Linked DNA regions of Homo sapiens. The protein of the gene in region 1 purifies or fractionates together with the protein of each later gene. This does not show direct contact. Each region holds a gene or a part of one and is shown in the gene's direction. Other genes may lie near its edges.

The links. The genes of interacting proteins can lie anywhere in the genome.
Region 2: the proteins of TRAF3IP2 (region 1) and TNFRSF13C purify together in Homo sapiens (affinity purification with western blotting, with the first as the bait; one study listed by BioGRID). This does not show direct contact.
Region 3: the proteins of TRAF3IP2 (region 1) and INVS purify together in Homo sapiens (affinity purification with mass spectrometry; one large-scale study listed by BioGRID and IntAct). This does not show direct contact.

The regions. Positions count from the first base shown.
Region 1 is NC_000006.12:111,557,880-111,560,878, reverse strand, and holds part of TRAF3IP2 (E3 ubiquitin ligase TRAF3IP2), read left to right. Parts: intron 1-1,327; coding exon 1,328-1,474; 3' UTR 1,475-2,999. UniProt on the Homo sapiens protein: E3 ubiquitin ligase that catalyzes 'Lys-63'-linked polyubiquitination of target protein, enhancing protein-protein interaction and cell signaling. Transfers ubiquitin from E2 ubiquitin-conjugating enzyme UBE2V1-UBE2N to substrate protein.
Region 2 is NC_000022.11:41,924,007-41,928,077, reverse strand, and holds the start of TNFRSF13C (tumor necrosis factor receptor superfamily member 13C), read left to right. Parts: upstream 1-1,271; 5' UTR 1,272-1,304; coding exon 1,305-1,440; intron 1,441-1,746; coding exon 1,747-1,977; intron 1,978-2,523; coding exon 2,524-2,711; 3' UTR 2,712-4,071. Other genes in the region: CENPM (centromere protein M), read left to right, coding at 96-273. UniProt on the Homo sapiens protein: B-cell receptor specific for TNFSF13B/TALL1/BAFF/BLyS. Promotes the survival of mature B-cells and the B-cell response.
Region 3 is NC_000009.12:100,097,829-100,102,042, forward strand, and holds the start of INVS (inversin), read left to right. Parts: upstream 1-1,414; 5' UTR 1,415-1,588; intron 1,589-4,214. Other genes in the region: ERP44 (endoplasmic reticulum resident protein 44 precursor), read right to left, coding at 956-1,012. UniProt on the Homo sapiens protein: Required for normal renal development and establishment of left-right axis. Probably acts as a molecular switch between different Wnt signaling pathways.

The DNA.
Region 1 (2,999 bases):
CTGATATATTTCATTGTCCCTTTCTTAAGGGTGCTTAATTCTAGCACCTTGGGTCAATGGTATGTGTTTGGGTTGAGGGTACTGGGAATAATTGTTGAGAATTATTGGAGCATGGCGATATACAAAATAGACCAAATTTTCATTGGTTTTGTTATTATTTTTAAATCTCCTTCAGACAATGCCCGTATTACCTGAGCCCAGCACAGGCCGCTCTCACCACCTGTCCCCTTGGTACACCATTGACTAGAAAATCATTTGTTGACATTTTGCTTTCATCCTAAGATTTGAAGTCCTCAAGGCAGTCCCTGCGTCCTTTTCATTTGGGCATCCTCAGTACTCAGTATGATGCCTGCCATGCAGCAGGTGCTGCTTCTAAGCACAATACCTAGAGAAGTCCCGTCCTATAGTCCCTAGGAGTTAGACTCAAAAGCAAAGGCCTTATGGTGGCCTACAGGGCACTATCCGATACAGCCCCTTCTACTTCCAGACCTCTGCACCTACTCACTCTGCTCTACTCACAGTGGCCTTGTTGCTTGTGAACAGACCCAACACACTCCCTCCACAGGGCCTTCGCACTGACTCTCCTATCTGCCTGGACCCAGACAACCACAGAGCTTGCTTCTTCCACTCTTTTAGGTCTTTGCTCATTTTCTCAGTGAGACCTCTCCTAAGCACCCCGTTTAAAACTGCAAATCTTTCACCCTTGCCCCAGCACTCCCTGTCCCCTTTCTTGTTTAATTCTTCTCCACAGCATACATCACTGTTGAACACACTATCCATTTACTTATTATCTGCCTCTCCCCACCAGAACATCCACTCCATGAGGGCAGTCTGACACTGCACCCCCAGGATCCCTGGCTAACAGTTTCTGCCTCTGCCTGATCACTGAGGTCTGATGGGCTCCTTCTACTGCAGGCCAGACCTGGGGCTGGAGTGAAAGAGTAATGAATTGATTTAAGCCTACGGCCCTGGCATACTTCTTCTGAAGTCACAGGGGAATTCACATCACTCTGTGTGACCTCTGTCCTACCCCTTTTATGTGAGGGTGGTGAAAAGCAAGTTGAAATGCAAAGGGTAGGTAGTCTGGGAGACTGACAGAAAATGCTGTGCACATGTGGTTTTTATAATGAGATATACAGCTTGTACCCGAAGCCAAGAACATTTCACATGCTAAACCTTTCCAAAAGCAAAACAGCACAACTCCCAGGATAGTTTGGTAGGAAACGCCCATGTAGGGAAAGCCAGAAATGTTTGGGAACTGAGCCTGGGATCTGGCATCCAGGTTTTTCTCTAATGACCTTTGCTCCTGTCATTCTGCCTCCCATAGGAGCATGTGCCCACCTGGCTTCAGAACACTCATGTCTACAGCTGGCCCAAGAATAAAAAAAACATCCTGCTGCGGCTGCTGAGAGAGGAAGAGTATGTGGCTCCTCCACGGGGGCCTCTGCCCACCCTTCAGGTGGTTCCCTTGTGACACCGTTCATCCCCAGATCACTGAGGCCAGGCCATGTTTGGGGCCTTGTTCTGACAGCATTCTGGCTGAGGCTGGTCGGTAGCACTCCTGGCTGGTTTTTTTCTGTTCCTCCCCGAGAGGCCCTCTGGCCCCCAGGAAACCTGTTGTGCAGAGCTCTTCCCCGGAGACCTCCACACACCCTGGCTTTGAAGTGGAGTCTGTGACTGCTCTGCATTCTCTGCTTTTAAAAAAACCATTGCAGGTGCCAGTGTCCCATATGTTCCTCCTGACAGTTTGATGTGTCCATTCTGGGCCTCTCAGTGCTTAGCAAGTAGATAATGTAAGGGATGTGGCAGCAAATGGAAATGACTACAAACACTCTCCTATCAATCACTTCAGGCTACTTTTATGAGTTAGCCAGATGCTTGTGTATCCTCAGACCAAACTGATTCATGTACAAATAATAAAATGTTTACTCTTTTGTAAGATTATGTTTTACTTATCTCAAAGGAGATACATATAATTTATAATGATATGGGCAGTTGCTTCCAGGGACATCAACAAAGCTGCTTAGATATAATATTAGATAAATATAACAGACCACTCTGTATTAATGGATTAAAGCCAGCTAGTTAAACAACCCTTTTTAACCATAATCATGGAAGCTTTATTCTTGCAATAAAGATTTTTAGGCTGGGCGCAGTGACTCACACCTGTAATCCCAGCACTTTGGGAAGCTAAGGCAGGCAGATCATTTGAGGTCAGGAGTTTGAGACCAGCCTGGCCAACATGGTGAAACCCCATCTCTGCTAAAATTACAAAAAAGTTAGCCGGGCATGGTGGTGTGCACCTGTAATCCCAGCTACTCGGGAGGCTGAGGCAGGAGAATCACTTGAACCCGGGAGGCAGAGGTTGCAGTGAGCCGAGATCATGTCACTGCACTCTAGCTTGGGAGACAGAGCGAGACTCCGTCTCAAAAAACAAACAAACAAATAAAAACACCCATTTTTAACAAAACAACTTTATATAGCATACAGCCATGATTCTAAATAGTATGATTATGGTTCTCAGGATCTGACTACATAGGTAAAAATATTTGCATATGTGTATGAAGTGTTGGGGGATGTAGGCTAGAATTGTAGTCTGTGTTCTAATTTTGGTTCTACCACCAATTAGCTGTATGACCTTTAGCAAGTCCTTTAACTTTTCTTAGATTCCAGGGACTCATTTATAAAATGACATGGACAAAAGCATCTCTAATCACTCTAAAAGATTTGAAGTCTAGGACCTAAATTCTAAATACTCTTTTGAGGAGTGACTGAGTTTTCATTTTCATAATTATGTCTCTCAGAGGACAAATTTACATTTTCTTAACAGAGACATTTTCTTCTTCTTTTTTTTTGTTTGAGACAGAGTCTCGCTCTGTCGTCCAGGCTGGAGTGCAGTGCTGCAATCTTGGCTCACTGCAACCTGCGCCTCCTGGGTTCAAGTGATTCTTCTGCCTCAACCTCCCAAGTAGCTAGACCTATAGGCGCCTGCCACCATG
Region 2 (4,071 bases), on another chromosome or scaffold:
CAGTCCAGCCTTTCGGTCCCAGCACTCCCTGGACTTCCTGTTTGGGCCTCCAAGCCTTTGCTCCCCTTTGGCCTTCACCCCCATCTGCTCCCTAGACCTCAGTCCATCTGGCAAACACTTCACCATCGCCCTCTCCATGAAGCCTTCCGGCCCACCTTCCAGGATGACGTGAGCTGGTGCCCTTGCTGCGAGGCTGTCTTCCCCCATCAGCACAAGTGTGAGATTCCCTCAGGGCAGACCCACATGCTACTTGGGCCTGGTACAAGTGTCTGATGTCAGGCTGGGCACTGTGGCTTCACACCTATAATCCCAGCACTTTGGGAGGCCGAGGAGGGCGGATCACCTGAGGTCAGGAGTTCGAGACCAGCCTGGCCAAATGGTGAAACCCCACCTCTACTAAAAATACAAAAATTAGCCGGGCATGGTGGTGCATGCCTGTAATCCCAGTTACTCGGGAGGCTGAGGCAGGAGAATCGCTTGAATCTGGGAGGCAGAGGTTGCAGTGAGCCGAGATTGCACCACTGCACAGAGCCAGACTCTTTTTCAAAAAAAAAAAAAAAAAAAGCAGGTGTCTGATATCCCCAACCAGCTCTGTCCAGGAAGGGCAGGAAGAGAGGAGGAGACAGGTGGGTTGGGGGAGATGGCAGGGGAGCACTCGGGGTCATGGAGAGGCTTTGGCTAGACGGAGCAGAGGAACCACTCAGGGTCTGTGTCCTGGCTGCGGGGTCCATCCCCCTCCCTACCCAAGAGGAGGCTCTGGTCTGCCCCCAGACACCTCCCAGCACCCAGCAGAGGGCCCACCCAGGCGGTGCTGGTTGAGGGGCTGAATTGGGGAACCACAGGTAGAAAGAGAGGCCAGGCCGGGTGCGGTGGCTCACGCCTGTAATCCTAGCACTTTGGGAGGCCGAGGCAGGTGGATCACGAGGTCAGGAGTTCAAAACCAGTCTGACCAAGATGGTGAAACCCCGTCTCTACTAAAAATACAAAAATTAGCCGGGCGTGGCAGTGGGCGCCTACAATCTCAGCTACTCGGGAGGCTGAGGCAGAGAATTGTTTGAACCCGGGAGGCAGAGCTTGCAGTGAGCCGAGATAGCGCCATTGCACTCCAGCCTGGGCGACAGAGCGAGACTCCGTCTCAAAAAAAAAAAAAGAAAAGAAAGGGGGGCCCCAGGCGAGCTCGGTCCCACCCAGCAGGCGGGGGCGGGGCAGGGCAGAGTGCTCCCCCCGCCCCCCGCTTCCTCCCCGAGGGCCCCGGAGCCCAGCTCAGCCTCAGTCCCCGCAGCTTGTGCGGCGGCGTCGGCACCATGAGGCGAGGGCCCCGGAGCCTGCGGGGCAGGGACGCGCCAGCCCCCACGCCCTGCGTCCCGGCCGAGTGCTTCGACCTGCTGGTCCGCCACTGCGTGGCCTGCGGGCTCCTGCGCACGCCGCGGCCGAAACCGGGTAAGGGGGACCCACGGGGCGCGCGGCGCCGGCAGCTGCGGGGAGAACGGGGCCCCGATCGCCAGGGCGCAGGCAGAGCCCCGACCCCCGGGGGCGCCGAGGGCTGAAAGGACCCTGTGGGCAGGGCCTGGAGGGGCCCGCGATCACCGCGTGGCCCTCACCGCCGCCTCTCTCCCTCCCCTTGTCCACCGCCCCCCGGCTGTCCCTCCCCTCCCCGGCCAGCCTCGCCCCCCTCCGCCCCTCCCCGTCCCCGCTCCTCCCTCCCCTCGGCCCCCTGGCCTCCCTCCCTGTCCCCTCCCGAAGCAGCCGGGGCCAGCAGCCCTGCGCCCAGGACGGCGCTGCAGCCGCAGGAGTCGGTGGGCGCGGGGGCCGGCGAGGCGGCGCTGCCCCTGCCCGGGCTGCTCTTTGGCGCCCCCGCGCTGCTGGGCCTGGCACTGGTCCTGGCGCTGGTCCTGGTGGGTCTGGTGAGCTGGAGGCGGCGACAGCGGCGGCTTCGCGGCGCGTCCTCCGCAGAGGCCCCCGACGGAGACAAGGACGGTGAGTTCCGTGTGTAGGGGAACCAGTCTGAGCGGGGCGCAGGGGCTGGGGTGTCGGGACGGTCTAGGGGGAGATGCATGGCCCCTGAGGGGGAGAGAAGGGCTTTAAGGGGAAACGGAGACAGAGTGGAAAAGAGTTTGCGCTGAGGAGCTCAGGCTGGGGAGGGAGACATAGTCCTGCCCCTGAGACCCTGGTCGGAGCCAGGAACAGCTCTGCCCTGACAGACCCCAGTGTGAGGAAGAGACAGGTTGCAGGAAGGGGGCCCCGTCTGAGGGAGGAGTCTGTCCTGCCCTTTGGGAGTCTAACGGAGCTTGGTTCCCCCATAAATCCCTGAAGAGTTTGCCAGACTGAGCCCCAGCTCCCCAACTCCCTGCCCTGCCAGCTCCCCACTGGCCAGGCCTCTGGACTCAGGGTCAGCCAGGTGCCACCCCTCCCCACCCTGCATTGGGCTTCATTTGACGGAGGACTGCCCCTCCAGAGGAGTCTTCTAGGGGAGGGAGGGAAGGCTGTGACTGAGTACGGAGCCTCTACCCCCTCTGCCTGCAGCCCCAGAGCCCCTGGACAAGGTCATCATTCTGTCTCCGGGAATCTCTGATGCCACAGCTCCTGCCTGGCCTCCTCCTGGGGAAGACCCAGGAACCACCCCACCTGGCCACAGTGTCCCTGTGCCAGCCACAGAGCTGGGCTCCACTGAACTGGTGACCACCAAGACGGCCGGCCCTGAGCAACAATAGCAGGGAGCCGGCAGGAGGTGGCCCCTGCCCTCCCTCTGGACCCCCAGCCAGGGGCTTGGAAATCAAATTCAGCTCTTCACTCCAGCATGCACATGCCCTCTTTCTGGGACCAGGCTAACTCTGCAGAAGCACAGACACTACAGACCACAGCATTCAGCCCCCATGGAGTTTGGTGTGCTTGCCTTTGGCTTCAGACCTCACCATCTTTGACAGCCCTTGAAGGTGGTAGCCCAGCTCCTGTTCCTGTGCCTTCAAAAGGCTGGGGCACTATGAGTAAAAGACCGCTTTTAAAATGGGGAAGGCACCATTAAGCCAAAATGAATCTGAAAAAAGACCAAGTGGGAGGATGCCTAATTTGTAGTTGGGTGGTTTTTTGTGTTTGTTTGATTTTTTTTTTTTTTTTTTTTTTTTTTTTTTGAGACGAGTCTTGCTCTGTCGCCAGGCTGGAGTACAGTGGCGCGATCTCGCCTCACTGTAACCTCCGACTCCTTGGTTCAAGTGATTCTCCTGCCTCAGCCTCCCGAATAGCTGGGATTACAGGCACGCACCACCACAGCCAGCTAATTTTTGTATTTTTAGTAGAGACGGGATTTCACCATGTTGGCCAGGATGGTCTCGATCTCCTGACCTCGTGATCCGCCCTGCTCGGCCTCCCAAAGTGCTGGGATTACAGGCATGAGCCACCATGCCCGGCCTTGTTTTGTGTTTTGGTTTTTTTTGAGACAGGGTCTTGCTGTATCACGCAGGCTGGAGTGCAACGATGGGTCCCCAGCTAATTGCAGCCTGGGCTCAAGCAATCTTTCTGCTTCAGCCTCCTGAGTAGGTGGGACTACAGGTGCTCCACCTTGCCCAGCTAATTTTTTTTTTTTTTTTTTTTTTGAGACAGAGTCTCGCTCTGTCGCCTAGGCTGGAGTGCAGTGACGCAATTTCGGCTCACTTCAAGCTCCGCCTCCTGGGTTCACACCATTCTCCTGCCTGAGCCTCCTGAGTAGCTGGGACTATAGGCGCCCGCCATCACGCCCGGCTAATTTTTTTTGTATTTTTAGTAGAGACGGGGTGTCACCGTATTAGCCAGGATGGTCTCGATCTCCTGACCTCGTGATCCGCCCGCCTCAGCCTCCCAAAGTGCTAGGATTACAGGCGTGAGCCACCGTGGCTGGCCTTTTTTTTTTTTTAAAGACAGGGTCTCGGTATGTTGCCCAGGCCAGTCTCAAACTCCTGGCCTCAGGCAGTCCTCCCCGAAGGGCTGGGATTATAGGCAGGAGGCGCCGGGCCTGGCCTCTATTTCTTTAATACCTGCCCTCAGAGCCGTCCTGCTTTTAAACTGATGCAAATGGCAGCAGTGAATAATCAATTCATG
Region 3 (4,214 bases), on another chromosome or scaffold:
CTTCATATGCGTCACTAAATCGTTTCTTAAATTGTAAAGAAAGTAGTTCTTAATGTTTAAATCTGAATTTCTAAAAATCTACTACAATTAAGGTACTTTCAAATATTACATTATAATTAACAGCCCAATTAAATATAAGCCATTTTGCCATACGTGTTTAGTCCTTCGCTTTTGTCTCAATTTGACCTGAAGCCTGGATCAATTAGTCTGCACACTCAAGACGTACTCTGGGGCAAGAGGGACTAGGGAAAGATTCTTTTAAGATGGGATGATGCTGAGCAGGTTAGGCAGTTAGGAATGAATGCATATTCAAATAAGGCGCAATGAAGAAGAAATCTGCTTCCATGGGGAAATACGTTGCAATAAGATTTGAGGGAGGCCTTGAGCTGAGATTGTCAGGTAACCACACCTTCCACCCTTCAAACTCTATTCTCCCAGTGGAATCCAAACCAGTCTCCAGTTCCGGGTTCCCAACCAATCGCATCAAGCCACAACAGAGGGATCTGCCAACCCGGGCACCGCTTCAGGGATCTAGACCCAGTGAGAGTCACACAACCCCAGCACCTGTCGACCTCACACTCTTCCCAAATGGAGAGGGTGGGAAGGAACGCTAGGTCTATGCTTGGTCTTTTCCGATTCAAGCTACCACCAGGTCCACTAGCCCTCGAAACCGAAACCCCCGGACTTCGGGGAGAAGGGGAAGCTCCTACGCCGTGACTACGTATCAGTCCCTCAGGGCTAATTCTCCCATTCTCCCCCGACACTGGTTTCTCAGGCCTCGGGGACTCCGCGCCTGGAAGCCGACAGGCGAGAGTGAGGGCAGCGGGGGAGGGTGCACTCCAAAACACTGCAGGAAAAGACGGAAAAGCAGGGGCAGGAGTAGCAGTGTTCCCCCTGGGCGAGGGCCGGAGGCCGTTCGTGCGTTTGTCGATGGGTCTGTCATTCCCTCACTCACCAGGAGCAGAAGGGAGCATCTGAGGTCGGGTAAGGATAGGAAGACGGCAGGATGCATGGTAACGCTGGGGTCCGTGACAGGGACAGGCGCTGGCGGCTGGGACTGGGCTAGGTTGGGTTGGGTTAGGAAAGGGCTGGGCTCCGGGAGCCGACGGCAGCGGAGGATTCTCCAGGCAGCGGCACCTCGTCCTCTCGACCCGGGCTCCAGCGGCGAACACCCGGGACAACTTCCAGAGAGGCCTCTCACACCCTCACTTCCGGGTCCTGCCCACCTCGGTGCACTTCGGGAAATGTAGTCCTGCACTAGCCTCACCCCGCACGTCGTCCGTCATCTAGAACTTCCTTTCCCATTGGGCTCTCGGCCCCGGTCCACTGAGTCCTCTGCGCGCGGGGTCCTGTGGGATAGAAGGGCGGAGGGCGGGTGTACGCGGTGCTTCAGAGGATGGGAACTACAATTCCCAGAAGGATGTGCGGCCGAAAGCCTCGGGCGGCCTTTTGAGGGGCTCGGCTAGCTTCAGCGCCGTGGGGTCTGACCTGGCTGGATATAGTGTACCGGCCCGGCAGGAGGGGCGGCCCGGTCCGGGTTGCGCCTCCTGGAGCCGCCCCCGGGACGTCAGTCCTGGAGGAGGCGAGGGTGAGTAGGAGGGGGCCTGGCTGGGGAGGCTCAGATCATTCGGTCCGCACCGCCTTGGCCCCTGCTGCAGACTCACGGCCTTCCTGGCCTAGGCTGTGGCCTGAGCCTCCATCATTGGCCTCCTCGCCCGCTGCCTCTTCTTTCTGCTCTAATTCCTGCATTATAAAGTCAGAGCCACCACTCGGGGCCTCAGTTGAATGAGTCAATGACTTATCCCTGATTGTCTCTGAGGGCTCCTGTAAGGAGTAGATGTGGTACGGGATGGGATAGCACGTCGTAAACTGGAAAACTGTGTGAGTGATTGCTGCTAAGGCGTGGATCGCTCCTCCAGTATAATTACGAAATTCCCTAGCAAAGCAGTCGAGGATCCTAACTTGGCCCCAGGTAGCTCTGCGGCTTCTTCTGCAAACACTCAGTGAGGTCCAGGAGCCCACGCGATCTCTGCTTAGTACCCAGGAGGCACACTGTGCTTTTGTGGTTCTCCCTGCTCCCGCCTTTGCTTCAGCTTTCCTGCTGCCTGGAATGGCCTTACCCGTTCTCTCTCTGGAATGCTATCTTAAATGTCACCATCTCTGAGAACTTCCCGAACAACCAACCCTTTAGTCCTAATCAGAATTACTCTTCCTATGAGTGTGACTGCAGTACCTCTAGTTTTGTACGGTTATAATTATTAGAGCATTTATTACACGGGCTTGTTGTATAATTAGGCAAGGATGATGACACCTTTGCATTTTATAGCACTTTATCAAAGTGGTTTTGACTTTTTTCTATAAAAAATGATTTATTTTCTTAAAGGGGCAAAAAATACATTTTTTCTTAAGAAAAAAAAAGAGCCCTGCATAATGGCTTTCTCAGGGTGACAAAATTAGACAGTGATAGAGCCAATACTCTTACCAAGGCGGCCTAACTCCTAGACTAGTGCTCCTATCTCTTGTCCACGCCCCTGACAGAGCCCAAAGATAGTTGAAATGGGAAATTTTAAAAGAGCAGAGACTTGTAAGTATGAACTCATTATTCAAGAAATTAAACTTTGATCCTGCTCACTTTTTGGACTTAGCACTCAGCCTGTGACCTTTCATCCAACAAACATCTACTGAGTACTGGCTATATACCTGTTACTGTGCTAAGTGCTAAGAATTATGAAGTAAAAAGTATATATATATAATATATATAATATATGTACATATAATATATATAATATATGTATATATAATATATATATTATATATGTATATATAATATATATATTATATATGTACATATAATATATATATTATATATGTACATATAATATATATATTATATGTACATATAATATATATATTATATGTACATATAATATATATAATATATGTATATATAATATATATTATATATATAATATATGTATATATAATATATATAATATATGTATATATAATATATATATAATATATGTATATATAATATATATATTATATATGTATATATAATATATATTATATATGTATATATATTATATGTATATATATAATATATATAATATATATACATATATATTATATATATAATATATATTATATATATAATATATATGTATATATAATATATATATTATATGTATATATATTATATATATTATATATGTGTATATATAATTTATATATGTATAATATATACACACACACACATATATATAAAACAGAGATCACATTTTTAGTGTATTTTTCAAAGGGTATAAAGAACTTTTTTTGTGGTTCTGATGTGCCTAAAACTCTGATCACTTAGAATGAAAAATGACAGGTCTTAGAGTTTAGAACAGTGCCTAGCACATAGTTGTCACTCAGCTTGTTGAATGAACGAATGTGAACATGGTCTAACCTTATTATTTTTTGCATTTTACAGAAACCTAGAAAGCTGACATAGCCTGAGGACACACTGCTGATTATAAATACAACTGGGCCTAGAACCCAAGTGCAGTTACTCCCCTCCCATGTTTTCACCTCCACCTCTATTTTGTAGCTTCTCTCAAATAACCTTAATATAATCCTGGATATGACAGTAGTTCTTCTGACATGACTGTTAGACTCAGACATGACTGAAGTGTCTCACAACACCCTCTTCCTCCATATTTTCTGCCAGTCCTTAACTCAAATTGTCAGCAAAATAAAGACGTAAGGAGCTGTGCTTTACCATAATTAAGAAAGTATTAATATGTTCTCTCAAGGGCAGAATTTGAACCAATAATCCTTGTCGATGACAAGACAAATACCAGCTCATCCGTTATAAATTTATCTTAGAAAACTCTCAGATCCCCAGGAGTAACAGCGATTGGCGTGACCTGCTTTTTGGTGAAATCAGAAAAGGACTTGCCTACCCTCATGGCAGCAATTAACTGGAGCTGATTAACAGCTGCTCCCTTTAGATAAGTACATATGCTTGAGTTTACCGTGATTCTGTGACTCCCTACGTTTCTAACAGTTGTTACCTCTCTGGTCCTTGTAGGCATTCAGCTTTGGAACTTTGATAAAGCAGCTTAAGGGTTTAGGAAGGATGTTTAAGATCACTGATGCAACTATTCATCTTTCCTTCCCATCAGGTGTTTGAATTGTTGCTGCATTTCTCCAGCCTCTGCTTTCTTAAACAC